4 linked regions of the Homo sapiens genome follow. The protein of the gene in region 3 interacts with the protein of the main gene of each other region in a biochemical or structural test. Each region holds a gene or a part of one and is shown on either strand. Other genes may lie near its edges.

What was found.
Region 1: of the proteins of NHLRC1 (region 3) and DVL2, one has a biochemical effect on the other in vitro, tested with the Homo sapiens proteins (one study listed by BioGRID).
Region 2: the proteins of NHLRC1 (region 3) and UBE2H form a complex in vitro, tested with the Homo sapiens proteins (one study listed by BioGRID).
Region 4: the proteins of NHLRC1 (region 3) and EPM2A form a complex in vitro, tested with the Homo sapiens proteins (3 studies listed by BioGRID, with this or other methods).

The regions. Positions count from the first base shown.
Region 1 is NC_000017.11:7,224,842-7,231,541, forward strand, and holds the end of DVL2 (segment polarity protein dishevelled homolog DVL-2), read right to left. Parts: intron 6,354-6,700; exon of another isoform or gene 6,040-6,353; intron 5,957-6,039; coding exon 5,887-5,956; intron 5,590-5,886; coding exon 5,444-5,589; intron 5,315-5,443; coding exon 5,205-5,314; intron 5,103-5,204; coding exon 4,967-5,102; intron 4,838-4,966; coding exon 4,747-4,837; exon of another isoform or gene 4,709-4,746; intron 4,607-4,708; coding exon 4,537-4,606; intron 4,434-4,536; coding exon 4,294-4,433; intron 4,205-4,293; coding exon 4,128-4,204; intron 3,204-4,127; coding exon 3,136-3,203; intron 2,943-3,135; coding exon 2,814-2,942; intron 2,695-2,813; coding exon 2,563-2,694; intron 2,429-2,562; coding exon 2,249-2,428; intron 2,118-2,248; coding exon of another isoform or gene 2,089-2,117; exon of another isoform or gene 2,046-2,088; intron 1,799-2,045; coding exon 1,580-1,798; intron 1,473-1,579; coding exon 1,024-1,472; 3' UTR 501-1,023; downstream 1-500. Other genes in the region: ACADVL (very long-chain specific acyl-CoA dehydrogenase, mitochondrial), read left to right, coding at 1-43, 116-256.
Region 2 is NC_000007.14:129,942,937-129,949,960, forward strand, and holds part of UBE2H (ubiquitin-conjugating enzyme E2 H), read right to left. Parts: intron 1-7,024. UniProt on the Homo sapiens protein: Accepts ubiquitin from the E1 complex and catalyzes its covalent attachment to other proteins. E2 ubiquitin conjugating enzyme that transfers ubiquitin to MAEA, a core component of the CTLH E3 ubiquitin-protein ligase complex.
Region 3 is NC_000006.12:18,119,916-18,127,604, forward strand, and holds NHLRC1 (E3 ubiquitin-protein ligase NHLRC1), read right to left. Parts: upstream 2,763-7,689; 5' UTR 2,692-2,762; coding exon 1,504-2,691; 3' UTR 525-1,503; downstream 1-524. UniProt on the Homo sapiens protein: E3 ubiquitin-protein ligase. Together with the phosphatase EPM2A/laforin, appears to be involved in the clearance of toxic polyglucosan and protein aggregates via multiple pathways.
Region 4 is NC_000006.12:145,634,510-145,641,533, reverse strand, and holds part of EPM2A (laforin), read left to right. Parts: intron 1-6,047; coding exon 6,048-6,289; coding exon of another isoform or gene 6,290-6,375; exon of another isoform or gene 6,376-6,454; intron 6,455-7,024. UniProt on the Homo sapiens protein: Plays an important role in preventing glycogen hyperphosphorylation and the formation of insoluble aggregates, via its activity as glycogen phosphatase, and by promoting the ubiquitination of proteins involved in glycogen metabolism via its interaction with the E3 ubiquitin ligase NHLRC1/malin.

The sequences.
Region 1 (6,700 bases), on a different chromosome or scaffold from region 3:
GGCCCAGCATGAGAAAATGCTCTGTGACACCTGGTGTATCGAGGTGAGACTCGGGGCTGCCAAGCTCAGGTGAGGGCTGGAGGTGCAGGCCCAACCCCTCCTTCCCTCTCCCCAGGCTGCAGCTCGGATCCGAGAGGGCATGGCCGCCCTGCAGTCTGACCCCTGGCAGCAAGAGCTCTACCGCAACTTCAAAAGCATCTCCAAGGCCTTGGTGGAGCGGGGTGGTGTGGTCACCAGCAACCCACTTGGCTTCTGAATACTCCCGGCCAGGGCCTGTCCCAGTTATGTGCCTTCCCTCAAGCCAAAGCCGAAGCCCCTTTCCTTAAGGCCCTGGTTTGTCCCGAAGGGGCCTAGTGTTCCCAGCACTGTGCCTGCTCTCAAGAGCACTTACTGCCTCGCAAATAATAAAAATTTCTAGCCAGTCATGCTTTGCTCCTGTGTGACGGTTCTTTCCCCCTGCTGCCTGCCTCCCTCCCAAAGAAAGGAGCCAGAGGCGTGGGGAGTTTGCCTCTATTGCTTTATTTGGTGTTTTATACAAGTGACTAAAATAAATAGAGTAACAAAGGCAGCTACATGGCCCAAATCTCCCAGCTTCCTCAGGCTGCTGTCTAGGATGCCTAACCCCGGGGTACCGCTGACCACCCCCAACCCTGCAAAGGGCAGGGCTGTGGGTAACTGGAGGAGGAGGTCACATTCTGGGGTTAGAAGGGGCCCAATGGATGGGAATTCTTCATATAAAAGAGGAAATGCCTATTAAAAAAGTCCCAAAAATGTAAGAAACTCTATTTTAACCCCCAAAAAGGCTTATAAAAAAACAAAGCTAAAAATAATCAAAGGTCCCTTGTCTACCCCTGAGGGAAGGGGGAGGAACCAGGCACTGCTGGTGAGAGTCACAGTGGCCACAATCTCCTGTATGGCAGCAGCTGGTAGGCTGAGCCCAGGCACTGTAAGAGCAAGCACATGACGGCCAGGACACCCAGTCACACACCAGGAGCGCCCGGCCCAGCCTGGCCCCACAGTGGGCTACATAACATCCACAAAGAACTCGCTGGGATTGCCCATGGCCATGTGGAAGCTTTGGCGGCTGGCTGTCAGTTCTGGGGGCACAGAGCCCAGGTCTCTGACTGGAGGGGCCCCCGGAGGCTGCACTGCTGGAGGGACTGGAGGTGGAGGTGGGGGCATCATGACCACCATCATGGGGTTGTAGGGGAGGGCCATGCCAGGGGGCGGTCCATAGGGATGGAGCCCTGGGTGGGCTCGGAGATTAGGGGCACCCCCAGTTGAGCCTCTGGATGGAGGAGGGCCCCCATCGCTAGTCCCACTTGCTTCCCCACCCCGCCGAAGGCTGCCCCCTCGGCTGGAGGGCTCAGACTCACTGCCACTGCCGGACTTGGACTCGGGGGCCCGCTCCTCGGGCCTCCCCGTGCGCCCTGCCCCCCCATCACTCCGTGTCGACCCACTGCTCCGGCTGCCTGTGGAGGGAGGGGAGGGGCAACTGAGTCCTCACCCAGGCTCCTCCCTGGCTCCCCTCTCATCCACCCTCAGATCCTGGCCGTACAGGTATGTGGGGATGACTTACCCTCACTATGCTGGCTGCTGGCACTGCCCCCACCATAGGTGTAAGATGAAAGCTCATGGTAGGGTGGAGGCTGCGGGCTGTAGGGGTGTGGGGCAGGGTATTGGTAGGAGAAAGTGGGCAGCAGGGGCCAGGGGGTGGCCCCAGGCAGAGGAGCCAGGGTATCCTGGTCTGAAGCCCCACTGGAGCCATCGTTGTCATTGAGAGACAGGTTGACTAGGTCTGGAAAGCAAGGGAAGAGAGGAAGAAATCACTGCTTCAAGAGGCTAGGGCCCCAAGACACCGAATGGAGAGGAACTGGGAACAGTTCTCCCAGACCCACCCACGATGGGGCTCAAAACAGGGGTTCACAAGGGTCTCTGACAAGAAACTCCCATCTACTTCTGCCATGAGGGCAGGGGCACAGCCACTAGCCCACGTCTTTGCGGGACTCAGGTAAGAGGTGCACCTTCCCCCGGTGGACACAGTCCTGCACCTGGCACATGGCTTGTCCAGCAGCACATGGGTGGACGTCAGCCCCCATCCTCGGCCAGTGCAGGACCTAGTGCGGGACACACACTGCTCGACCATCCATGGTGGCCCTGGCTGCGGTTTCTGGGCTAGGTCTAGGGTTGGAGAGGCAGAACAAGGTAGGCAAAGCCACACTCCCAGAGTTGGGGCAGGGGGACTTACAGCTCTCACAGCCACCACTGAGGTCTCCGAAGACGTAATAGCACTGCTCAGAGAAGGTGATCTTGTTGACGGTGTGTCGGATCAGGCCTGCTTTGAGCAGCCCGCTGGCATACTTGCGGGCCTCCCGCCGCTCAGGAAAGCCCTCCACGTGATGGTAGAGCCAGTCAACCACATCCGAGCCTGGGAGCACCCACAGTGGAAAAAGGCCTCAGGTTCTTCTTCCAACTCCTGCTCTCGCCTCTGCCTGTGCCATTCCTGGCTTTGGTCACCACCTCCTCCCCTTCTCCAGCCACCTGCCCAGGACCCAGCCATACCCAGAAAGGCATTAGGGATGGTGATCTTGAGCCACATGCGGTCCCGGACTTCCAGTCCAGACTCTGGAGCTGCCATGGCCTTGGTCACCGATGCCATGTCCGTATGGACGGAGAGACCCCGGCCTTCACAGCCTGGCAGAGGAGACAACGGGTAACCAGAGTCAGGGATCGCTCCCACAAGGGCAATGGATCAGACCACTGCGGGACAGCCTTCTGCTGGGAGGGTGGGATGAGGTGGGCTGGCGGCTCACCATCAGGCAAAGACGATCCAGATGTAATGGTGCTCATGGAGGAGGAACCTGGATAGGCTGGGAAGGTGCCAGTCAGAGCCGCGGAATGGGACACCCAGGCAGCAGGGTCAATTGGCTGGATGGGCTCATCTGGGACAAAGATGGCACCAAAATGACCCATTCTCAGTCCCCAAAAGCCAGCCCAGTCCCTCCCTGACTCAGCCTCCTGTTCCACCTCTGCCTGGACCCTCCTCCCACCCATTCCCCATGACCACAGGCCCGGCCCCAGCCTCCTGGGCAGCCCCCACCCCCAACTTCAGGCCCCTCCCTGAGTGTCACTCACTTCGGGGGAGAGTGAAATAGGCCTGAGGAGAGGGATCCCAGCACTTGGCCACAGTCAGCACAATGGGGCTATGGGGAAGAGAAGTCCAGTCAAGGGCGCAGGGGAAGAGGAGGCCTCAGGAGGGCGGGGGTCTGAAGCAAGGATGGATTAAGAGACACAAAGAGGGGGAGAAGCAAGCACATCGCGGCTGGGCTAGAGAAGGTGAGGGTGGAAGGCACCACAATGTGGATGACTCATCAACATGGAAAACTCTTAAAAACATACTGCCAAGTGAGACAAGAGAGTACACGCTGTACAGTTCCATTCACAGAAAGTCCAAAAACAGGTAAAACGAAACTGCAGTGTTCAAGGATACGTGCAAGGGTGGTAACTATCCAGTGAGGCAAAGCTTTTCTTTGTTATGGTGATGGCCAAAGAAGTCAGGAGAGTGACTACCCCTGGGGCAGTGAGGCATTTGGGAGCAGGAAGGGACATCTGAGGAGGAAGTTCTAGGGTATCAGCAATCTCCTATTTGATGATCTAGATGGCAGTGACATGGATATTTACTCTAGTATTATTTGCTATGTCATGCATTTGTTTCATGTACTTTGAACGTTATGTCTTAGCACTTTTTTTTTTTTTTGAGACGGAGTCTTGCTCTGTCGCCCAGGCTGGAGTGCAGTGGCGTGATCTCGTTTCACTGCAACCTCCACCCCCCAGGGTTCAAGTGATTCTCCTGTCTCAGCCACCTCACTAGCTGGGACTACAGGCATGTGCCACCATGCCCACTTAATTTTTCTATTTTTAGTAGAGACACGGTTTCACCACATTGGTCAGGCTGGTCTCGAACTCCTCACCTCAGGTGATCCACCCATCTGGGCCTCCCAAAGTGCTGGGTTTACAGGCTCGAGCCACCACGCCCGGCTGTCTTAGTACTTATTAAAATTCCAAAACAAAACATGAAAGAGAAAAAAAAAGAGGACTGAGGACCGGCAACCTGCTTGGCAACTCACCCAGGCTTGTGCACAATGTCCCTCAGCACCCGCACAGCGTCATCGTTGCTCATGTTCTCAAAGTTCATGTCATTCACCTGGAAGCGACGGCAAGTGGGTCAGAGACACGGTGGGAGAGGCTGAGGGCCCCCGTGCAGGGCAGCTCAGTGGCCCTACCCCAGCACACCTGCAAAAGCATGTCCCCTGGCTCAATGCGCCCGTCGGCCGCCACAGCCCCACCCTTCATGATGGAGCCAATGTAGATGCCTCCGTCTCCCCGCTCATTGCTCTGGCCAACAATGGAGATACCCAGGAAGTTGTACTTCTCTGTGGAGAGAGGCCATGTGAAAAGAGGAGCCCCTGCCACAGGACGCCCGGAACCCTAGAGACCAGGCCCTCCCCACGCCCTAGCCACAGGCTCTCCCCATACCCATGTTTAGCGTGACTGTGATGATATTGAGAGACATTGTGGAATCTGTGACGCTGCTGAAGGATGACGTCTGTGGTGGGAAAAGGAGCCAGAGTGCCCTTCAATAACCCAGGGTCAACCCTGGGGTGCTGCCGGTGTCCTGGCACCGCCCAAACCAAAGCCCATGCCCCACCTTCTCCCAGCACCAGCCTTCCTGTAGGAACCCCTCACCCTCTCCAGGCGGGGTGGCCTCTGCTTCCTTCGCCGCCGGTGGCGCTTAAGGAGGCGGGAGGCACTGCTCTGCTCCGTGGAGCTGCTGAACCTACCAGGAGGTTGGGAAGGAGAGCAAACGTAGGCCAAAGTGGTCATGGGGCCAAGAGAAAGAACAAGAGGATTGACTGGAAGACGAGACGGGGCTGGGTGCGCTGGGGAGAGCTGTGCGGAGCCACACCTGCTCATGGTGTCCTCCTCGTCCGAGTCCCCCAGGCTGGTACTCTCCAGCTCGCTGGTCATGAGGGTAGAGGAGCTCTCGTATCCGGCCAGGTGGCGCTCCAGCCTTGAGGGGCCACCAGTCCTGTGGCCCCCAGCTACATATGGACAGGAAGCTCAAGAACCAAGCTTCCCCCTGCTCACCCCACCAAGGCTGGGGTCTGGCCCAGCCCTTCCCGGCCCCCAGGCCTGCCCCTCACCGCCATGCTCACTGCTGTCTCTCCTGCGAGGCCGCTCCCGCCTCAGTGACACTACTGACTCGGTTTCTGTCTCAGGCTCCAGATTCTCATGGCTGCTGGACACATTAGGGCTGGACAGGCAGAGATGGTTTCCAACCCACATCAGGAGAACAGGGCTCCGGATCCTAGGCGTCCCCTACCAAAGGCCTGGGTTCCCTCCTCACCTCCCTCCCCTGCAGTCAAGAATCTGAAGGACTCACTGGAAGGATGGAGGCCTTGAGTCCCCAATGCCGCTGGTCCTCTCGGGTGGCAAAGGAGGTAAAGGTGGGGCTGGAGGCGCCAGTTCTGCCCGAGGCTCATGGACTGGAGGGGCCATCTCGGGTTGGGGATTATCTGAGGACACCAGCTAGAAGGGTGCAAATGATAAACAGTGGCTCACTTGGGAGTCAGGGTGTGACAGGTGGCAGTAAGTGAAAGAATGAGAAAGGGTCTCAGAGAGCTGGAGAAGAGCAAAAAAACCTAGCAAGTATTAGAGACTCCAGAAGGAGAAGGCTGAGGGCCTCTCGCCGGCTCTCCAAACAGACAGGAGGTAAAGAGCCAGGGCTGCTAACGCGCGGCCTGGGGAGGATACAGAAACAGACTGAGGCTTGAGGGAGCTTGGCAATGCTGAGGGGGCCTGGTCCTCGGTGTCAGAACCTCTTACCCAGGATACCACCCTTCCGTTGAAGCAGGGGAGGCGGGCGTTGTCATCTGAAATTTCTTCCTTCACCACCCTGCCAAGCGACAAGGTAGAGGTCAGTGAGCTGGACCAACCATCCCCACCCCGACCCCCATCAAACTTTCTCCCAATCTTCACCTGGCTCCAGGATGTTGACTTTCTCCTGCCCTGTTCAGGTCTTCTCTTACATTGAAAGAACTCACTCCGACACCTAAGAAATCTCCAAACTCAATCCCCTTTCCTTATTTCTCCTCTCCCTAACGCACCCTCAGGGGCACAGTGCTGCTCCAAAGACTTCCTTGAGTCTGACTCAAACCTCTTAGTCCAGTTTCAAAAGCAATCCCGCACGCTGATGCGGCTGCCTGAGATACCTATCTAATGAGACTGGCTGGTGGCCTCCTCTCAACCCCACCCCTGTTCCTTACAAACCTTCCAAAAAGGTCAGGCACGGTGGCTCACACCTGTAATCCCAGCACTTTGGGAGGCTGAGGCGGGCGGATCACCTGAGGTCAGGAGTTCAAGACCAGCCTGGCCAGCATGGTGAAACCCCATCTCTACTAAAATACAAAAATTAGCCGGGCATGATGGTGGGTGTCTATAATCCCAGCTACTCAGGAGGCTGAGATGGGAGAGTCGCTTGAACCCGGGAGACAGTGGTTGCAGTAAGTCGAGATCGCGCCACTGCATTCCAGCCTGGGCGGCTCAAAAAAAAAAAAAAAAAAAACCTTCCAAAAAAGGCTTTGGTCCTCATCAAAGCCTCTACTCTTATACTTTCCTTTAGTTTTCTCTAATTCATTTC
Region 2 (7,024 bases), on a different chromosome or scaffold from region 3:
GGTTCAAGCAATTCTCCTGCCTCAGCCTCCTGAGTAGCTGGGATTACAGGTGTGCACCACCACACCCAGCTAGTTTTTGCATTTTTAGTAGAGATGGGGTTTCGCCATGTTGGCCAGGTTGGTCTTGAACTCTTGACCTCAGGTGATCTGCCCACCTCAGCCTCCCAAAGTGCCAGGATTACAGGCATGAGCCACTATGGCCGGCCAGATTCCTAAAGTGTAATTTCAAAGGGCCACAAAACATTTTTTTTAGACAGGGCCTTGCCCTGTCACCCAGGCTGGACTGCAGTGGCATGATCTTAACTCACCACAACCTCTGCCTCCTGGGCTTAAGTGATCCTTCTGCCTCAGCCCCCAGAGTAGCTGGGATTACAAGTGCATGCCACCATACCTGGCTAATTTTTTATCTGTTTTGGTAGAAATAGGCTTTTGCCATGTAGCTCAGGCTAACAAAAATATTTCACAATAAAAATTTAATTTACTAATTTCAAATGGGGGTGGGGAGAGAAGAGTAGCTACCAAATCAGCTTTAACCAAATTCAGCTAGAAATCAATGCTTTAGGCCAAGCGCCGGGAGGCAGAGGTTGCAGTGAGTTGAAATCGCACCACTGCACTCTAGCCTGGGCAACACAGCCAGACTCCGTCTAAAAACACAAACACAAAAACAAACAAAAAACCAGATTGGCCAGGCATCGTGGCTCACACCTGTAATCCCAGTACTTGAGAGGCAGAGGCAGGCGGATCACCTGAGGTCAAGAGTTCAAGACCAACCTGGCCAACATGGCAAAACCCTGTCTCTAACTAAAAATACAAAAATTAGCTGGGTGTGGTGGCAGGCCCCTGTAATCCCAGCTACTCGGGAGGGTGAGGCAGGAGAATCGCTTGAACTCAGGAGGCAGAGGTTGCAGAGAGCCAGTCTGGGCGACAGAGCGAGACTGATTCTGTCTTTAAAAAAGGAAGATAAAGTGTTTAAATCATTATTCAAGTGAAAGGTATCACAATCATTGTGGTAAAATTTGTTTTATTGATAAAAAAATTAACAAAATTCATATACTATAAAATAAGGTTAATAATAAAAAATAAATCAGTGCTTTAAGAGCATGTAATTTAACATGATTCCTTTAAAATACACAAGTGAGGCCAGGCGCTGTGGCTCATGCCTGTAATCCCAGCACTTTGGGAGGCCACGGTGGGCAGATCATGAGGTCAGGAGATCAAGACCATCCTCGCTAACATGGTGAAACCCTGTCGCTACTAAAAATACAAAAAATTAGCCAGGCTTGGTGGCGGGTGCCTGTAGTTCCAGCTACTCAGGAGGCCGAGGCAGGAGAATGGCGTGAACCCAGGAGGCGGAGCTGGCAGTGAGCCGAGATCGCGCCACTACACTCAGCCTGGGCGACAGAGCGAAGACTCCGTCTCAAAACAAAACAAAACAAAACAAAACACACAAGTGAAACAACCGTTGTCACAATTTTATTTGGGTGTGAAATATGGACCATCATCAGTAAACATTAAATTCAAACTACGTGTTAAACATGGCTGGGCACAGCGGCTTACATCTGTAATCCCAGCACTTTGGGAGGCCAAGGCCAGAGGATCACTTAAGCCCAGGAATTTGAGACCAGCCTGGCCAACAGTGAGACCTCATCTCTACAAAAAAAATAAAATTAGCCAGGCAAGTGGCCACGACTGCAGTGAGCTGAGATCACACCATGAACTCTCATCTGGGCAACAGAGTGAAATCCTGTCTCAAAACACACACGTGCGCATGCGCTCAAAACACACACACACACACACACACACACACACACACACGCACGCACGCACGCGCATGCGCAAACCCTACCACATGATCTAGCTTAGCCAAGAGAAAAAAAAGCGTATATCCATACAATGTTCATAGCAACTTTACTGGTAATAGCCCAAAACTGGAAATAACCCAAATGCCACCAAGCATTAAGAGGTGAATGCATAAACAAATTGTGGTATATCCACATAATAGAATACTACTCAGCAATAAAAAAAAAATGAACTAAATAACATGGGTGAATCTCAGAATTATAAGTGAAAGAACCCACACAAAAAGAGTATGTACTGAATGATTCCGCTTATATATACAATTCTAGAAAATGTAAAATAATCTACAGTGACAGAAATGAGATCAATGGTTGGAAGGGAGGGAGGGAAAGATTACAAAGGGCCACAAGAAACTTTGGGGGAAGATAAATATGTCTCCTCTCTTGATAAGGATAAGCTTCATGGGTGATACATAAAATTAAAACTTATCAAAAGTATCACTTTAAATATGTACAGTTAACTGTATGTCAATTATACCTCAATAACAAAAAAGAATCCAAGATGCCAAAACTAATTCTACAGTTCCTGTTAGATCTATCTGCTCATAAATATATTTAACCTACCGACTTGCAGTATGCACTCTGAGAATACAAAATTATGCCTAAATTGAGGATCACCATTATCACAAAAAACATCAAAGTTTAAACAATGAGGAAATTAGAATTCATCTTTAATCACTATGCCAGGCTATTTCAGTGCCAAAACGATACCAACTAAAACACAACACAACAAAACAAGAGCCCGCTGAGTGTAGGGCTCTGAGATTTTTAATTAAATATTTTAATTCAAATGTTTACCTTCTTTGATCTAGAATCCCATTTCGGGAAAACAGAAATAACCCAAAGAAAAGCCTATGCACAAAGATGTTAATTTCAATCTTATTCATCAGAGAAAAATGGCAAAGAATTAAATCAATGGCACAGCCATGGGATGGCATATTACATGAGCTACTTTTTTTTTTTTTGAGACTGAGTTTCGCTCTTGTTGCCTAGGCTGGAGTGCAATGGCGCAATCTCAGCTCACCGCAACCTCCACCTCCCAGGTTCAAGCGAATTGATTCTCCTGCCTCAACCTCCCAAGTAGCTGGGATTACAGGCATGCGCCACCACGCCCAGCTAATTTTGTATTTTTTAGTAGAGATGGGGTTTCTTCACGTTAGTCAAGCAGGTCTCAAACTCCTGACCTCAGGTGATCTGCCCACCTCAGCCTCCCAAAGTGCTGGATGTATAGGCATGAGCCACTGTGCCCAGCCTAGTCATTATTATTTTTTTTTTTTTGAGACGAAGTCTCACTCTGTGGCCCAGGCTGGAGCACAGTGGCGCTATCTCTGCTCACTGCAAGCTCCGCCTCCCGGGTTCACACCATTCTCCTGCCTCAGCCTCCTGAGTAGCTGGGACTACAGGCGCCCGCCACCACGCCCGGCTAATTTTTTTTTTTTTGTATTTTTAGTAGAGATGGGTTTTTACCATGTTAGCCAGGATGGTCTCAATCTCCTGACCTCATGATTTGTCTGCCTCAACCTCCCAAAGTGTTGGGATTACAGGCGTGAGCCACCGCGCCCGGCCCCTAGTCATTATTTTTAACTGGGAAAAACAGTTGCAAAAATATTAAGCAAAAACAGGGCAGACACATACAGTATGATCAACAGGTTGAAAACAATACATCCTGGGGAGAATAAAAGATATAGGAAAAAAGCCATAAGGTTAACATTTAAGGCCAACAGTTCTTAAACAGTGGTCCTGGACCAGAAGCATCATCTGCGAACTTCTTAGACCCCACCCTAGACCCAATGAATTAGAAAACTCCAGGAGTGGTATGCAGTAACCTGTTTTAACAAACTCTCCAGGTGATTATTTGTTTTTTGTTTTTTGAGATGGAATCTTGCTCTGTCCCCCGGGCTGGAGTGCAGTGGTGCAATCTCAAACTAAAGTTTGAGAACTACTGTTTAAAGAACTAGGATTACAGGTGACTGGTTTTCCTTCTTGTAACCTATGTTTTTCTCAATTATCTTTTTACTTTTGAAATCCAACTAAGTTCTTTTAAGTATTTTACTAACAGGTACACTCTGTAGGTCTACAGGTAAAAAGCTATTACGTTGCAAACATTATAACGTAATGTAAGGTCTGGATTACATGCCTAAAAATCCAATGATTCTTGGAACCATCAAATCTGTTAAGACTGAAAAGAATACCAATGTTTAAATATATCTATAAAATGCAGGTCAAGGGGCTAAGAAAATTGCAACACTAGAAAACCAACAAACTTAGGTTGTTCTAACATACATACACAAATACAGGAGGGACGTTTATGGGTCACATCTGCGAAACATTTTTTCCCAAAAAGCTGAATTTTTAGGCTTGCGTGTAATTTACTAGAACTGCACTGCAGGAATCAGATGTTCTGAAGCTGTGAATGCTTACTCATGTAGGTTCCTGCCTAACCAAAATAAGTACCAGTATGTTATATTTGTCACCAAAATCTAGGCAGGGAAGACAAATTCAGAACACTGAGAGTTGCCAAATCTTTAACTTTTAGCTTGAAGACCATAAAGCTGTGCCAACTTTCATCTCATCATCTCACTAAAACAGAGTCCACTGGAAATAAAGAGGCAAACCACAGGTTCCCAATTGACACTAGAACTAGTTAAAAGATTTAGGGAACTGTCTACCCTTTGAACACAAATTAAAGAGTAACAAAGACTACTAACTTAGGGATAGAGTAACTACTGATTAACAGCAAAATACCAAAGTTAAGTCAAAGACAAATGGCTACATATTTTAATATTTTAGTTTTGAAATTTTTTTAAACAGGTGTACAGATCCCCATATACATCCTAGCACACAAAATTCATTTTAACCTTTCTATTCCTTGAAAAGTCCACTCTAAGTAAATACAAGTTACTCAAAAAGGCACTACACACAGCAATGACCTAACACAGCCTGTCCTTTCCGACTAAAAAAGTTTTAACTAATTGCATAAGCACCATGACCACCCATACTGAATTTTTCACTACTAAACTCCCAGCACAATGCTGGCACAAAGCAAGTACCCAAACATATGAGGATTTTTTTTTTTTGAGATAAGAGTCTTGCTCTGTCGTCCAGGCTGGAGTGCAATGGTGTAATTTAGGCTCACCACAACCTCCGCCTCATGGGTTCAAGCTATTCTCGTGACTCAGCCTCCCAAGTAGCTGGGACTACAAGCCCGCACCATCACGCCTGGCTAATTTTTTATATTTTTAGTACAAGTACATACGGGGTTTTGCCATGTTGGCCAGGCTTGTCCCGAACTCCTGACCTCAGGTGATCTGCCCGCCTTGGCCTCCCAAAGTGCTGGGATTACAGGCATAAGCCACTGTGCCAGCTTTTTTTTTTTTTTAATTAAGAGAGTCTTGCTCTGTTGCCCAGGCATGAGTGCAGTGGCATGATCTTAGCTCACTGGACCCTCAAACTCCTACACTTAGGTGATCCTCCCGCCTCAGCCTCCCAAAATGCTGGGATTACAGGTGTGAGCCACCACACTTGGCCACATCTGAGGTTTTGAATTTGTTAGAGAAAGCTTCTGAAACCCTAAAGCAGACACCAACGATTCTGTAAAATTAACTCAGGCCGTTTTAATGTAAGACACCGTCCCTTTCTATCACACTTGACGCTTTCTTAAGGGAAGCTGACATTTCTGCCATACTTTGGAATCCCTGCAAATGAGTCAGTTAAGTGCATTTAAAGTGGCATGCCCTGGGCCAGGTGCACTGGGCTCACACCTGTAATTCCAGCACTCTGGGAGGCCAAGGCAGGAGGAAGATTTGAGGCCAGGAGTTGGGAGGCCAGCCTGGTAACCTAGTCAGACCTCGGTCTCTACAAAAAATGTAAAAATAAATAAGGGGGGGATCCTATTACTGAACTCCCTCTGAAAAGAAGAATCATTGAAAACTCTTGGTATTGTAAGTTACAAAATTGTACATATGGTGTATGCCGGTCCCCATTATTATCCGATCTACTTTTCTGATTTAACCTTAATTTTTCTAAACATTTCTTGTACTCTAACAGGTCAGGTTTTCCTCTTCTCTTTTTACCCCTCGAAAACACACTTGTTCCTGTAACACCACTCAGAGGGCCTCCCCAGCCCCCACCTCTTTTGTATATAAACACACTCTCTTGTCACATACTCCATCAGCTGTTTGGTAGCTCCTCCCCTCCTCCTTTTCCGGGTAGTAACAGGGCGGCCAATGAGCGCTGAGGAGCGGTGCCTGCGGCCTTTTGCCTGCATACGCTTTTCCAAAACAAGCAGCTCTAGCCTTCAGCAGGGGCCACTGGTTCACAGATGAAAGGATCACCAGGGCTGTGCAACAGGGTGAGACGAGTAACCCCCACCAACAAGGAAACCCGTGTAATCTGAGCTGTTTGTTCCTCCACCAGGGAGAACTTAAACCGATATTCCTTTAGGGCAAATCACGCTTTAAGGTCACCAGAGCCCCAGCTCTCAGACAATCTAAATAATCAGCTGGTTGGAGGTGGAAACCTCAAAGGTTGCCAGGCTCTGGGCAGCACAGATCACCAATCTACCTGACTTTGCAAACAAATGGCCGCACTATTCGAGACTATTCCATAGGATCTGGGCTAACTGCAAGGTTTTTTTACTGGGACACATTCCTAAAGGATCCAAAAGTCATGTAAATCAGTTTCTAGGCTCCTGGGGAGGTTTGCACAACCCTTAGCAAAGGATCAGAAGAGAAACAATGAATGAGTCAGAGTTTCAGAACATAATCACCCAGCAGATTATTAAGTGCATTGGTGCAAAACACTCACTCCCTGCATAACTTGGGAGTCAGCTCTCCTACCAACCCGTCACAAAAGAAATATCACTGACTCCAAACAACAACCAGAGACGGTGTCTCCAAAAGAACCGAGCGAGGTGGTGGAAGGCAGCGGCCAATTAGTTACACATCCTCTTCTCTCCCTACCCCCACACTGCTACTTTCCTACTATATAGGTTCCCTGCCAGGCTGTAAATCGTGGTGGTATAATTACGCTCAGGAGACATCCAAAAATGGGCTGAAACAGGAGACTGCAAGGAAACCAGCTATCGCCCCCCACACCAAAGAAATCATCAAGGGGCATGGGGGGCAAGAAGTGCATTCCTTCAGACCTTTTCTTCCTACTTCCTCTCC
Region 3 (7,689 bases):
TCTAGGGTGCCCCAAATCTTACTATTAGTGCTATATGATGAGAGCATTGACAAGAAAATGGGTTTTTGTGGACTGGCATGGGAGTTAGGCTCTCGCTTTTACTTTACGTGGGCGAGGCACAGTGGCTCATACCTATAGTCCCAATGCTTTGGGAGGCCAAGGCAGGAGGCTCTCTTGAGCCCAGGAGCTTGAAACCAGTTTGGGCAACAAAAACAAGATCCCATCCCTACGAAAAATTTAAAAATTAGCTGGGCATGGTGACACACCTGTAGTCCCAGCTACTCAGGATGCTGACGCAGGAGGATCGCTTGAGCCCAGGGAGTCGAGGCTGCAGTGAGCAGTGATCAATCCACTGCACTCCAGCCTGGGCAACAGAGCAAGACCATGTCTAAAAGCAAACAAACAAACGAAAAAACCCCATAAACATGTAACAGGAGCGTCATCAGCCCTTTGACGCTAGTATGTAGTGTGTTCTGCAATAGTTTAGAACTTACACAAATATAGGCCTTTCTCAAACAACCAAGTGGTATTTTCTGAGTTTGTATAGTGGAGAAGATATAGGCGTTAAAAGACATGTTTACTTTTTTAATAAGCAGTTCAATTGTTTTTCTTATTCACGTAACTCAGGATCAACAGTAACTTCATCTAATGTGCCATCAGAGCAGTCGCAAATTGAATGAAAGTGATGGCCACCACAAAATCCTTTTTCTCCTGAACTCTCCATAAAGTCTCCTTTCTTTGCACATCTTTGTGCTAAAATAATTAGCTACTTGTAAAGACAGTACACATAGCAACACTACACATTCACATATTTTTCCCACATCTGTTGTCTTATTTAAGCGCAACTTATTTGGAATCAGAATTGAATTCAAATTGGGACTAAGGCAGTAAGTAACTATGACCTCGAGGAAGTCACTTAAGCTCTCTGGGTCTCAGTTTTCTCACTTGTACAATGAGATTAATAATAAAAATTATGGCTGAGCAAGTGGCTATGCCTGTACTCCTAGTACTTTGGGAGGCCGAGGAAGGTGGATTGCTTGAACTCAGGAGTTTGAGACCAGCCTGGGCAACATGGTGAAACCCCATCTCTGCCAAAATACAAAAATTAGCTGAGTGTGGTAATGCACACTTGTGGTCCCAGCTACTTGGGAGGCTGAGGTGGAAGGACCACCTGAGCGGGGGACGTTGAAACTGTAGTGAGCTGTGATCATGCTTCTGCACTCCAGCCTGGGTGACAGAGCTTGACTCTATCTTGGGGGGGAAGAAATTACCTCACTGGATAGTACAGATTAAATAAGCTAATATTTGCAAATTTCCTTGCACAGAGTATGCATTCAATAAATGGTAGATTAATCTCCAATAACTGTCCCAAGCTTTGTAAGTCTGCCAGATGGTTTTAATTATCCCTGCCTGGATAGATGAGTTTAAGTGACTTATCCAGGGTTAAACAATTCATTAATGGCAGCACTAGTGCTTCTGATTCCAGGGACCCACCCCAGCCCATCACCCCCAGTCAACTTTATAGACTTTTATAGAATGAGATGCTGTGTCCAGCACAAGAAGAGAATTCTCCTTGGTGAAGGTAAGAGCCACAGGATGCGAAAGACCATGAGTGACCATGGGCTTCGGTACTGGAAACTCCTCAGGTTTTCCTAAGCAAAGGATAGCTGGACCAGATGTATCTGCAACAATCACATTTCCCTGGTGATCAAAGGTCACAGCGGAGGCAGTTATTTTGGAGGGAAAGTAGAGGCTCAGCCCAAAGGTATCCACTTGGCCGACAAGCTGCATACTTGAGCTAAACACTTTCACCCTGGTGCTGCAAACCCCAGTCCCCAGGGCCAGGGGGTGCTCCAGGACCGCAATGGCCCCGGTGAGCCAAGACACTGCCACCCCTCGGGGATTGCACAGATGAGCTTGCAACCTTTCAGTTCTCCGAAGGACCCCTTCCGCGAAGTCGACGTCCAGGAGGTGCAGGGACCCTGCCTCCGCATCAGTTACCACAATCCCATTCTGAGGGGTGGTCTCCACACCCCAAGGTAAGGAGAATTGGCCTCCAATGACAAGCTTGATCTGGCCAAAAAAATCAAACACTTTGATGGAGCGATCGCCGGCGTCAGTGACAACCACATGGCAGTCGTTGGTGATGGTGACATCCACAGGGTACCTAATGTCTTGGGCAGCGTCCCCCTTCTCTCCAAACTGATGCGCGCATCCTCCCCCTGAGTCAAAAATCTTGACACGCCTCCTGCCGTCGTGCACCACCACGACACGCCCCGTCTTGGGACAAAGCGCCAGTCCGGTGGGGTTGACCAGGGTCCCCCAGCCGCCGAAGGTGTGGTGGCAGGTGAGGGCTCCGGGGGCGCTGGGGGCGGCGCGATGGGCGGCCGGGGACTGGCGAAGCGCTGAGCCCAGGAGCTCTATGAGGTGCAGCACCGGCAGGCAGTCGCTGGTGTCGCAGCCCCGGCAAGCTCGCCTGCAGAATGGGCACTCGAGGGCCAGAGTGCGCGGGTGCGCCAGGGCGGCCACGCAGGCCAGGCAGACCACGTGGCCGCAGGACAGGTTGCGCGGGCGCCGCTGCTGCCGGTGGCCAAACTTCTCAAAGCACACCTTGCACTCGAGCAGGCTGATCTCCGCCTCGCGCATGAGCTCATGCAGCGCTGGCCCGCTCTCCGAGGCTTCGGCCGCCATGGCGCGTCCTGTGCACTCCCGCCGCGCCGCCTGGCCGTGCCCCAGCGACGCTCTCGGTCACGGTCACAGTCATGGTCACGGGGTGGGACGTGCGCCCTGACGTCGAGCGCCGCGGGCCTCTGCACTGCGATCTGCTGCCCCTTGGTGGGCACGCGCGGCACTGTTTCCTGAGGGCCTGATGGTGGACGTTTGCAAGACAAATCCACATGCGCGTTGTGTAGACCTGTAATCGTCACAGCAGTCATGGATGGATTGTGTACACTTTCAGATGAGGAAACACACCTATTGAGGACAACAGGATTGCTCCCTGTCACCCAGCCTGTAAGCGGCAAAACAAGAACTAGAACCCAATCTTCCAGCCCGGGTGCCTAGCAGTGTCTCCAATCCGCAGCGCCGGGTGCTACGGCTGTCCGGGCATAAAACATGGTCCCTTAGCTCATGATGCTTATGATCTGAACCGGAAAACACGAACACACTAGAGAAGATAAACTCCAAGGGAGGTGAGGCAGATGTGTACATTTCTTTTGTGTCTTCTGTCATACTCATAGTTAAGTCAATGTTAGATGAATACATACTTGTAAAATGAATTTGTGCATGAATGAATGTTATAGAACAACAACAACAACAAAAAAAAATCAACGAGGTGAATGAGTGTCAGATGGGGCAACCATGCTGGAAGTGTCTTGCAGAGTAATTAATATGAAATAAGAAAGCTGTTAGTTAATAATAATTACCATAGAACTTCATTTTTTTGTTTTTTAAGACAAAGTCTCACTCTGTCACCCAGGCTGGAGTGCAGGGGCACGATCACAGCTCACTGCAGCCTCCATCTCCCAGGCTCAAGCAATCCTCCCACTTCAGTAGCTGGGACTACAGGCATGCACCATCACACTAGGCTAATTTTTTAATTTTTTTGTAGAGAGGAGGTCTCACTATGTTGCCTAGGCTGGTCTTGAACTTGTGAAAATTGTTCACATTCCTCCCCACCCCTTGGCCTCCCAAAGTGCTGGTGTGAGCCACTGTGCCCAGCCTATGGAATTCACATATGCCTGCCCCATTGTGTTAGGTTGGTGAAAAGGATTCGCAGTGTTTGCCATCACTTTTAATGGCAAAACCGTGATTACTTTTGCAGCAAATTAATAAATAATTTACATAGATTATCTTGTTTAAACCTCATAGCAATCCTACAAAAATATGTTATTTTTATTGTCTTTTTTTCTGATAGAATTCATAGAAATCAAATATCTTGCCCAGGGTCACATGGCTAGGAAGTGGCTGGCCTGGAATTTGAAGCCAGGCAGTTTGACTTCAGAGTTACCTATTTTAGTCATTTTCAAACTTCTTTGCACATGGTAAACACCTGGGTCGCACCCGAAAAGTTTAATTGGCCCATGGTGTGGTCTGGACAGCTGGGATTTATAAAAGCTCCCCAGGTGATTATAATGTACAGCCAAGTTTGAGAAACACTGCATTATAATAATTCCCTCAAATGACACTAAGTTCAGTTTTTCCAATCTCAGTTAAGACCAAAAACAAAGAGAATTTGCCATATGTTGGAAAATCTTCAAACAAGGGATAGCATAATCTGTGTGAAGAATCCATTGTGGTATTATAATCTCTCATTTTTCTTTTTCTTTCTTTTTTTTTTTTTTCTTTTTGAGACAGAGTCTTGCTCTGTCACCAGGCTGGAGTGCAGTGGCGCGATCTCGGCTCACTGCAGCCTCCACCTCCTGGGTTCAGGCGGTTCTCCCACCTCAGCCTCCTGAGTAGCTGGGATTACAGGCACCCGTGACCATGCCTGGCTAAGTTTTGTATTTTTAGTAGAGATGAGGTTTCACCATGTTGGCCAGGCTGGTCTCAAACTTCTGACCTTTCGCGTCAGCCTCCCAAAGTGCTAGGATTACAGGCATGAGCCACCGTGCCTGGCCCTAAACTCTTATTTTTAAGGGGTTCTCCCTCAAATGTCTTATGTGAACATTGTGCTTAACAAAACCTTGTATTAGAGAATTTCTTTTCCTTTAGAGATCATAATCATGAACATTCACCTTCTGATTTGCTAGATTTCTGAGAAAACACAATATTTTATCCCCTGTTGAGGCCCCTGGAAAGAGCTTTAATGTAAGACAAGAAAGAACATTTTCTAATCAAATGTCATTTGACTCAAAGATTGCGTACTGGGACACAATAACCAACTTAATAATTTCTGACTACATTTCCATCCCAAATAAACAACCAACTAAAATCACATTATTTATGCAATCACACCATTGCATAATTGATTAATAACAAATATGTCTTGAATCTCACTCTGACATTTGGCATTTCCTATGACTATCATTTCCTCCTCCATGGCTGGGCCTCCATGGATTTACCCTGTGCTTCCCTCCGATATTCCTTCTATAGAGGGTCCTGGACTAGCATGCCCATCTTTTCCTGCTTCCACCTAGAACAAGCCCTGAGAGTTGTGGGGGCAAAGGGCTTGAAGAGCAGAACGTCTAGTTTCCAAAGTGGTCAATGGCTGCCCTATGAAAAAGTACCATACTATAGTGGAAGGAGAGTGGGGACCCAGCTCAGGATGGTTCCAGCAGAGAAGAGAGCACAGGGGGAGCATGAGTTAGGGGGAGTCAGTGCTTAGACAGGTGGGCTCCTGGTTGTGCAGGTGGGGCAAATGTGCCAGACACATGCAGTTTAGAAGGAATCCCAGAACAAGTTTAATGATCCAATTACAACTCAGACTACCTGACAATGATGTAAGGGAAAGGAAGATGAACAAGCCACACAGAATGGGCTTTGCTTCCAGCCTTGCCCTCCTCCCAGGGGCGTCTCTGACCACCACTCTAATTTTTAAGCTCCATGTTCTTGGCATCTCAGGGGTGAGGGATGTGGTGGCAAGAGGAAGAATGGCTGTTTTTGAATTTTTTGAGTAAGTCCATACAAAAATGAGTGGAGATGTATGTTTGGAAATGGGGATCTAGAGATTTGAGTGCATCTCAAGTTCAATGCAATTGAGTGTTCCTCAGGGTGCCACCTTCAGTCTTTTTCTCTTAGCTTCCTACCTGTTTCCCTGAGCAATGCCATCTTCACTTCCTCGTGGTTTAAATGACCAGTTATAAGCTGACAGCTCCCTGCCTGTACCCCTAAGACAGCCATACCATATGAAGTTCAATGTTCAGTCCCTACCCCTACAACCTGTGATGCCTGAGAAAAGGATTATCTTCAATAATCAATAAACCTTTATCTGCTAGCACACCCAATAGTACTTAAATTGCTGAATGAATGCTGACTCTAATAGCAGGAGAAAGACTAAATAATAATTGTACTGCCACATTACAACATTATACAGCTATTTAAAAATCTTGCTTTTGAAAAATATTTAGTGACACTGTTACCAGTAGAAGGTTTGACTACAAGTTGTCCAGGTTCTTGGCTTTTTGAACAAAGAATTGGACAAAATGCACAGCAAAGCAGAGAAAGAATGAAGTAACAAAAGCAGAGATTTATTGAAAATGAAAGTGCTCCACAGGGTGGGACCTGGCTGAGCAGTGGCTCAAGGGCCCTGGTTACAGAATCTTCTGGGGTCCAAATACTGCCTAGAGGTTTCCCACTGGCCACTTGGTATTCATCCCATGCAAATAAAGTAGTGGCCCGCAATCAGTCTGATTGGTTGCTTTTGCTTGCTGCAACCAATGAGAGGCCGAAGTGAAGTTACAAAAGTTACACTCCTATGCAAACGTTTGATTGGTTGCAGATGTTTCTGCCACGCAGAAAAGGCTAGGGGCGGTGGGGTGGTGGAGGTTACAAAGGGAGTAGCCTCTGGTCCTTTTGTTACTTAGGCATGGAAAGTTGAGGTTTTCCTTTCAATTTAGTTCTAGGAAGTCAGCATGAATCAGCCTTAGGTTCCCTGCCTCAAGACCCTATTCTCCTGCCTCAACTCCAGGAAGGGTGAATGAAATAGAAAGAAAGATAGTGGAGATACAATACTGTATCGTAATGTGATCACAACAACCTTGTGAAAACATTCACATGTATGAGCAGACAAAAAAGATGAGAAGAAAATACATCACCATCATAGCAGTAATTATCTCCAGTGATAGGACTTGATTGCTTTTCTTTTTCTTTTTAGACTTCCCAAATTTTCAATGCATAAAGGATTATTTGTCATATTTAAATATAAATAACTTAATATTTTATGATATATTTCATTTCTAAATATCTGCCTCGATTATCCTCCTGTTGTCGAAAGTTAACACCAATAGTGAAATAAATTTCTATTAATACCCACTGTTCAGGAATCACAGATTTTCAAGCATATTTTCAGCTCACAAATTACAGCTACACATAAGTAATAAATCTGGGACATGACTATTTTCTGCAAATCGGAATGACTATGCTTAAGGCACATAAATAGAATTCTGTCCAATTCCCACCAGCCACTGGTGAATTTGTCATATAATGTTTTATAAGGCAAAAAGCACATCACATAAGAAGTGATTGGAAAGTCAGAGCTGTAGGGATTAAAGATGATAATTTTTAATTTTAATTTTGTTGTTGTTGTTTTTGTTTTGAGACAGTTTTGCTCGTTGCCCAGGCTGGAGTGCAATGGCTTGATCTCGGCTCACCACAACCTCCACCTCCTGGGTTCAAGCAATTCTCCTGACTCAGCCTCCCGAGTAGCTGGGATTACAGACATGTGCCAACCATGCCCGGCTAATTTTTTGTATTTTTAGTAAAGACAGGGTTTCACCGTGTTGGCCAGGCTGGTCTCGAATGCCCGACCTCAGGTGATCCGCCCACCTCGGCCTCCCAGAGTGCTGGGGTTACAGGCATGAGCCACTGTGCCCGGCCAATAACTGATTTTTTAAAAAGCACTCAGTAGAAATCTTTCTCTGAAACACCTTTCAGAAAGAGTAGGTGTAGGCTGAGCAGCTCTTTGGGAGGCTGAGGTGGGGGGATCACTTGAGGCCAGGAGTTTGAGATCGTGCTGGGCAACATAGTGAG
Region 4 (7,024 bases), about 130 Mb from region 3:
AAGGCTGCTTTAACAAAGTGCCACAGACAGTGTGGCTTAAACAATAGAAGCTTATTATTTCACAGTTCTGGAGGCTGAAAGTCTGAGATCAAGGTGTCCACAGGGTTGACTCCTTCTGAGGGCTGAGTGGCAGCATCTGTTTGAAGCCATCTTCTCCCTGTATCTTCACATTGTCTTCCCTCTGTGTCTGTGTTGAAACCCCCCTCTTATAAGGACACTAGTCATTTTGGGTCAGTGCTTACTCTGATGACCTCAGTTTAACTTGATCACCTCTGTAGAGACCCTGTCTCCAAATACAGTCACATTCTGAGTTCCTAAGCGTTAGGACTTTAACATAGGAGTTTGGGGAGGGGGACACAAGTCAACATAATAGGCCTTTATAATTAATGATATGGCATTTCATAATATGGAAAATAAAAGAGCATTTTGTCAAAAATTATTTGCTTTCATATGGCTCTAAACTACACAGTACATCCCCAAAATGTAAGAAATGAACTGGACTTACAGAAATTAACTTGTGCTCTATATACATAGTGTATGACTCATAAAAAACTATAATAAAACTATGGTTTAATAAAGAAGCTAATTAGTATCACTTTCTAAATTGGAATTTGTCTTTGAGTAGTTATTCAGCCTTAACTGGAGCCTGTTATAAGCACCCTTTTGGGGTAGAAGTTTGGCATTAATAACTTAACACTGGATGCTAGAGGACAAATTTTCAGCAGAAGGAGCTGTATGTGCTACTGAAGCCTGGAGCTTACTAGAGGTTGATTTTAATGTTTCTCTTGCTTTCCCACTAATGAGATCTAAATTATAGGACGGATAGACTTTTTTTCCCTTTACTCATTATTTAAGAGCCAGTTCATATTTTAATTTCTCATTGAATTGCCCGTAAAATATTAAATAAGATAAATGCAACACAATTATCCAACTTAGGAAATGTGCTTTTTTTTCTTTCCTTTTAAATTCTTAGCTGGGTTTTGTTAAGAGCTTCAGCAAAATCGATTTTCTCTATTTTTTGAAATGGTGCTCCGTTTGTATGGCTAGGAAGAGGGCACTGCAGTTCAACAGTTGGAGTCTTTAGGTGTGATAAATAAACAAAAGCTGGTTCCATTATTCCTGTGGTTTTCCTCATCTTTTTTTCTTTCGATGGACACAAAATAATGCTGATTTTCACCTTTAGGAAAAGGTTATTCTGCCATTTCTCATGGCCATTAGTGATGGAAGCTGTAATGTGAAGTCCATTGAATGGACTTGTCTCCCAATACCTTTTGTCTTTTAGACACCCACTTCTCCTGTCGATACCCTGTGGTGATTTTTACAAAGTGCTTGGATGGTCATTCTGTCTGATGTGCCAGTGAGGCTTCCTTTGACTGACAGTTGAGCGTCTGATTCATACGCTTCAGTAGCTGTTGGACCACAGGCCCAAGCCTGATGGGTGAAACAAATACTGTAGTATTATGATATGGTTACCTGGAACCACAAATCCAGATTCACTCAAATGAGTTAAATTGATTTTGATTTGCAGTCTAAGAAAATAAGGTTCCAGAATGTCAGCCATCTATTCTTTCCCCTGGTCTTTAGCTAAGTTGTAATACTACTAGGGTAGATTTTATTTATGTATAATCTGATTATAGCACAGCAGAAATAGTCAAAACCCTAGTTAATAATTTTTTTTCTACAAAAGTACATTCTTATGCATAGGACTATATTAAATATTTGTCGTGGCTCAGAAGTAGATTTAGTTTTGACCAGTTAGAAGGTACTGTGCATTAAACACATGGATATACATTGTCTCTCATAACAAATAATTTCTCACTCTAGGAATTATTTGTAGTCTTGACACTATTTTTTGGACAAAGATAAGAACTCACCTTAATTTGTAGATATGTCAGACTGAGGAAGCCCATTTTTTCTCATCTCCATATTTTTTACTGATATTTAAAAAAGATATTGGGCTCTATATATTAAGCTTCTCTTACATGCATATGGAGACCTTGGACTGGTGGTCCAAGGTGGTGGTTCTGGAATCTGCTGCTTACACAATCTAGTTAATTTCTAAACAGACCAAAAATCAAAGAACCTACAGAATTATAGGCCTAACTCCCAAGCCTCTCTATAAGTATCTCTGAGATGGATCCTGGTAATAGATGTTTTTATAAAAGTACCTCATGTGACTTGAATGCATAGCCAGGTTTGAAAACTTCTGTCCTGAGCTGACTGAGTGTCAATACCCTGTTGGTTTAGTTGGCGTCTCTTTACCTCCAAATAGTCTATAGTGGAGCTGCCAGAAATCTCTTGAGTTCATGATTGATAGTGGATTATTTATGAAACAAGTCTCTGGAAGTTTTATGATATAACTTATAATTGTAAGCTATAACTTCTATTCCATTATATCTTTGAATTTTGGTATGCCTTGCATTAAAACTACTCTTACAGAGAATTTTTATTCTCTAATCTCATATGTCAACAGGCTTCTTTTCACCCTAAAAATCCTGATGTTAAAAATTGTTTAAAATAACATTGATACCAAAAGAAGACTAAAACTGAGATGAGATGAGTAAAAATGAATTTTTAATGGTATCAAATTATCCTCTTTTGAATGGATGAGTAAAAGTTTAATTACTTTTTAGAAAGCATATCATGTATCTTGTTACCCCCAGTGAATCCTATAACTAGAAATATATCACCTACTTTTGGAAAACAAACTGAAATAGGATGCACATGAAGGGCACTTTAGCTGTCTGATTAAGCAGAATCCATTGATGTGTTTGTTTCCAACAGGCCCAGTCTTTGTCTCTGCATCCCATACAATGATTCAGTACAAATCACTTTATAACCTTACTTTTCTATCTTTCAATATAGTGTTTGTTTTCAGAGTTTATCTTTAGTTATCTGTCTCTAGGTTTAGAACATCTTGTTTTAAAGTAGCAGAAATTAGTTCATACTCATTTCTTAAATATGGACTCTGACTTCCACCATGTCTGGATGTATATTTTAAGGGCTTATTTCCATCAGAAATGTTATGTGTGAGATATATGTGTTAAGCTACTGGCTTTGGGCCTGTTTATCTTTGACTTGTTCTGAGTTTCCCTATCACCTTAAAAACATTTGAAGGCCAGGGCTGAAGGATATGATAGAATAACACCTCTTTTAGCAACAACATGTGACTCTATAGACTGACTCTGATTTGGGATATGCTGACTCTGATTTCTTATATTGCAGGCTCAAATGTCCTAATTTACCCTTTGTGTATCTCTATGAACTATTCTTGAGCTTTTATGCAATCCTGTGTGAAAAATCAGCCAGCCATTTTATTTTGGCATTTACCGACTAGCGAAATACTAACTAGTACCCACTCAAAGAGTGCAATATTCAAGAAAATGCTGAGTGGTATTTGGATTTTAGCTTGCCTGTCATGAAATTCTCTTTAATATTTTACCAGTCCTCTTTAAAATTTTGCCAGTTGAAAAAAACAAACAAACAAATAAAAATTACTGTCTTATAATAGTTTCTATTTCTTGGTTATGTAACGGAAGTGTCCACTTCCCTCTTTTCCAGCTTAGGAGCTTTAGTGTGCTCAGTTGAACCCCAAAGTATACATACGTGAGCCCAGCACTATCACCTCACTAGGCATCCAGCAGGTCCCTGGGTAAGGGATCTTTGAAAGATCTGGAAAGAGGGATGGGACATCTAGTTAGAGGCAGGTCTCACTCAACAGCCAGAGGGAAGGGGCAATCAGCAAGTGGGTGTGACATTTCCCCCGAATACTCAGCTATCCAGGTCCTGATGAAGCTCGGCTCTTGGGCACCCTGCAAGTGTCCTTGCTCAAGGTCTTTCTCTCAGTACACTGGGTCCAGTGGAATATCTAAGAATTATCTGGATCCAGGGATAAGATGAAGGCCTTGGATTTCATGCCTCTCTTTCCATCACCATTAAGTCTTTTGCCATTTCTAACTTTTCTTTTATCATTTTTTTCCCATAATAATCCTCAATAAGGATTTCTGCAAGGAAATTCCTAATAACCCTTTAGACAAGAACACAAGTAGAAAAAAAAAAAAAGTTGTTCTTCTCCTGCAGGGGAAGCAGGGCTCAGGCTTTAGACAGATAGTGCCAGATCTTATGAGATAATTTTCACTGATTATGGGTCATGACCACATTAGAGGATTAGTTAATTGGCTTCTCCTGTTAACATCAACAATGACAACCACCACCAAAAGGAAAAAAGCAAAAAACAAAAAAAGCTAGCTTTCATACAAAAAAATAGGGTATCTTCTACTCTGTAGCATTCAAATGAAGAATATAGGAAACAATGAAGAATTAACTGAATAATCTTTACAATGCAATGCAAAGTAAATTACAAAAATAAGTAAATCACTATAGCTACACATGAAATCCGCTTGCACTTACTGTGCATCCACGGTTTCAGTCCAATTCAGGTACATTAATTGTATTTATTCCTTACAAGATTTTTATGAGTTATTTTTAGACCCATTCTAAAGATGAGTACACCAACAGGTTAGAGTTGATAAATAACTTGGCCTAACATCATACAATTGTTACTAAATGTTATACGAAATCTTTTTTTTTTTTAATTTTTTTTTTTTTTTCAGACAGGTTCTTGCCCCATCGCCCAGGCTGGAGTGCAGTGGTGTGATCTTGGCTCATTGCAACCTCTGTCTCCTGGGTTCAAGCAATTCTTAGGCCTCAGCCTTTCAAGGTAGCTGGGATTACAGGTGTGTGCCACCACGCCCAGCTAATTTTTGTAATTTTACTAGAGACGAGGTTTCTGCCATGTTGGCTGGGCTGGTCTGGAACTTCTGGCCTCAAGCAATCCCCGCCTCAGCCATCCAAAGTGCCAGACTACAGGCGTGAGCCACTGCGCCAGCTTCTTTTTTGGTTTTTACATTTTTCCTTTTGGCTGTTGTTGTCAACATTGTTAACATGAGAAGCCAATTGCCCAGTTCCCTAATGAAGATCCACCACTGTCTTTCTAAAACTTCAGTTCTGCTTACCCTACAGGAGAGAATAAACTTTTTTTTTTTTTAAGAGATGGAGTCTCACTCTGTCACTCAGGCTGAAGTGCAGTGGTGCAGTCTCGGCTCACTGCAACCTCCGCCTCCCGGGTTCAAGCAATTCTTCTGCCTCAGCCTCCCCGGTAGCTGGGATTACAGGTGTCCACCACCACGCCTGGCTAATTTTTGTATTTTTAGTAGAATTGGCCAGGCTTGTCTAGAACTCCTGACTTCAGGTGACCCGCCTGCCTTGGCCTCCCAAAGTCCTGGGATTACAGGTGTGAACCACTGCATCCGGCCAGATAAGCGTGTTTTATGTTTTTTCTCCTTGGGTTCTTGTCTAAAGGGTTATTAAAATTTTTCTGAGTTTTTAACTTTTTCATTTCATTATTTTTTTCTATAATAAACCTCAATGATAATTTCCAAAAGGAAACTATATTGCTATTTCTCCTTCTTACCTTGCAGCATTAGATGAAACCTATAGAACACTGCTAGGTACTAATGGAATTAATGTTGATTCTGATCTTATTAAAAGAAGTCTGTTGTTTTTTAGCTTCTGTTCTTTAGCATATGTTAAAAGTCTCATACTATTTGAAATATTTGCATAGACTTTTAAACCGGAATGCCTGCTGAAATTTGTTTTTCAGAATTTATTTATATAATTACAGGAATTTTCACCTCTAATTTGTTAGCATTTGAAGTCTATTGATGGATTTTTATCATGTGGAACCATATATGCATTCATGGAATAAGTACAACTTGGTAGACTTATTTTAATATATTGCTTGATTTGGTTTGCAAATGTCCATTTCCTGGCGTTCTAGTTAATTGAAATACTTGCTTTCCCCAAAGCAGCAACACCAGTACTTTTTCTTTCAATAATAACATTGGTGTTCATATTCTAAAATATCTAGCTTTTCCTGTGCCAGACTTAAAGGTTAGTTATATTTTAATACTACATGTTTTATGCAGCTCCTTAAACCTCAAATCAGAACAACACTAGTGATAGTTGTCTCCATATGTTCTCATTAGAATTCTACCAAATATCTGGCTGGGTAGCTGCCCTCGTCAGGTGGAACATGTAACCATCAAACTGAAGCATGAATTGGGGATTACAGCTGTAATGAATTTCCAGACTGAATGGGATATTGTACAGAATTCCTCAGGCTGTAACCGCTACCCAGAGCCCATGACTCCAGACACTATGATTAAACTATATAGGGAAGAAGGCTTGGCCTACATCTGGATGCCAACACCAGATATGAGCACCGAAGGTAAGGATCAGAACTGTTCTGCCTCCTTGCTGTATTTCAGAGAAACCCTTGCTGTCTGTCTGTCTATCTATAATTTAATATCTTAAAAATGAATGGTAGAAATGGAATAAATATAAGATTTTAGATTTAATATATATAATACATATGTTTTGACACTGTGGCTAAGATTCTGTTTAATGTGGCTTCTTTGTTTATTCATTCAACACATATTTATTGTGTATGTACTGGGTATGCGGCATTATGCTAGTAGCTAGGAACACAGCAGTAAAGAAAGACAGGCACAACTTCTGCCCCCACGGAGCGCATTGTCCTATAGGGATGGCAAATGTTAATCAAATGACTAAAAATAGAAGTTTAAAACTATGATGAATTTTTTGTTAGAAAATATATAGATATTGCTATGAGATTATGTACAGGTAATCAGGCCAAGAAGTGGGGTCAAAGAGGGTTTTCTTGGAAAGTAGTGTTTGGGCTAAGATCTGAGGGTGGGCTGGAGGAAGAGTGAGTGGAGGGAGTGACCCAGGCAGAAGCAGCAGCTTAGAAGAATCCTTGTGGCAGGAGAGAGCACAGAGTGTTGCAAAAACTGAAAGACCAATGTGGCTTGGATCAGAGAACGAGGAAAGATGATCCTGCAGGATTTGAGCGACAAAAAGGACTTTAGACGCTATCCTATAGCAGGAAGAAGCAGTTGTACAGTAAGACGAGTTCGACACTAATTACAGCACAGAGGGGAAT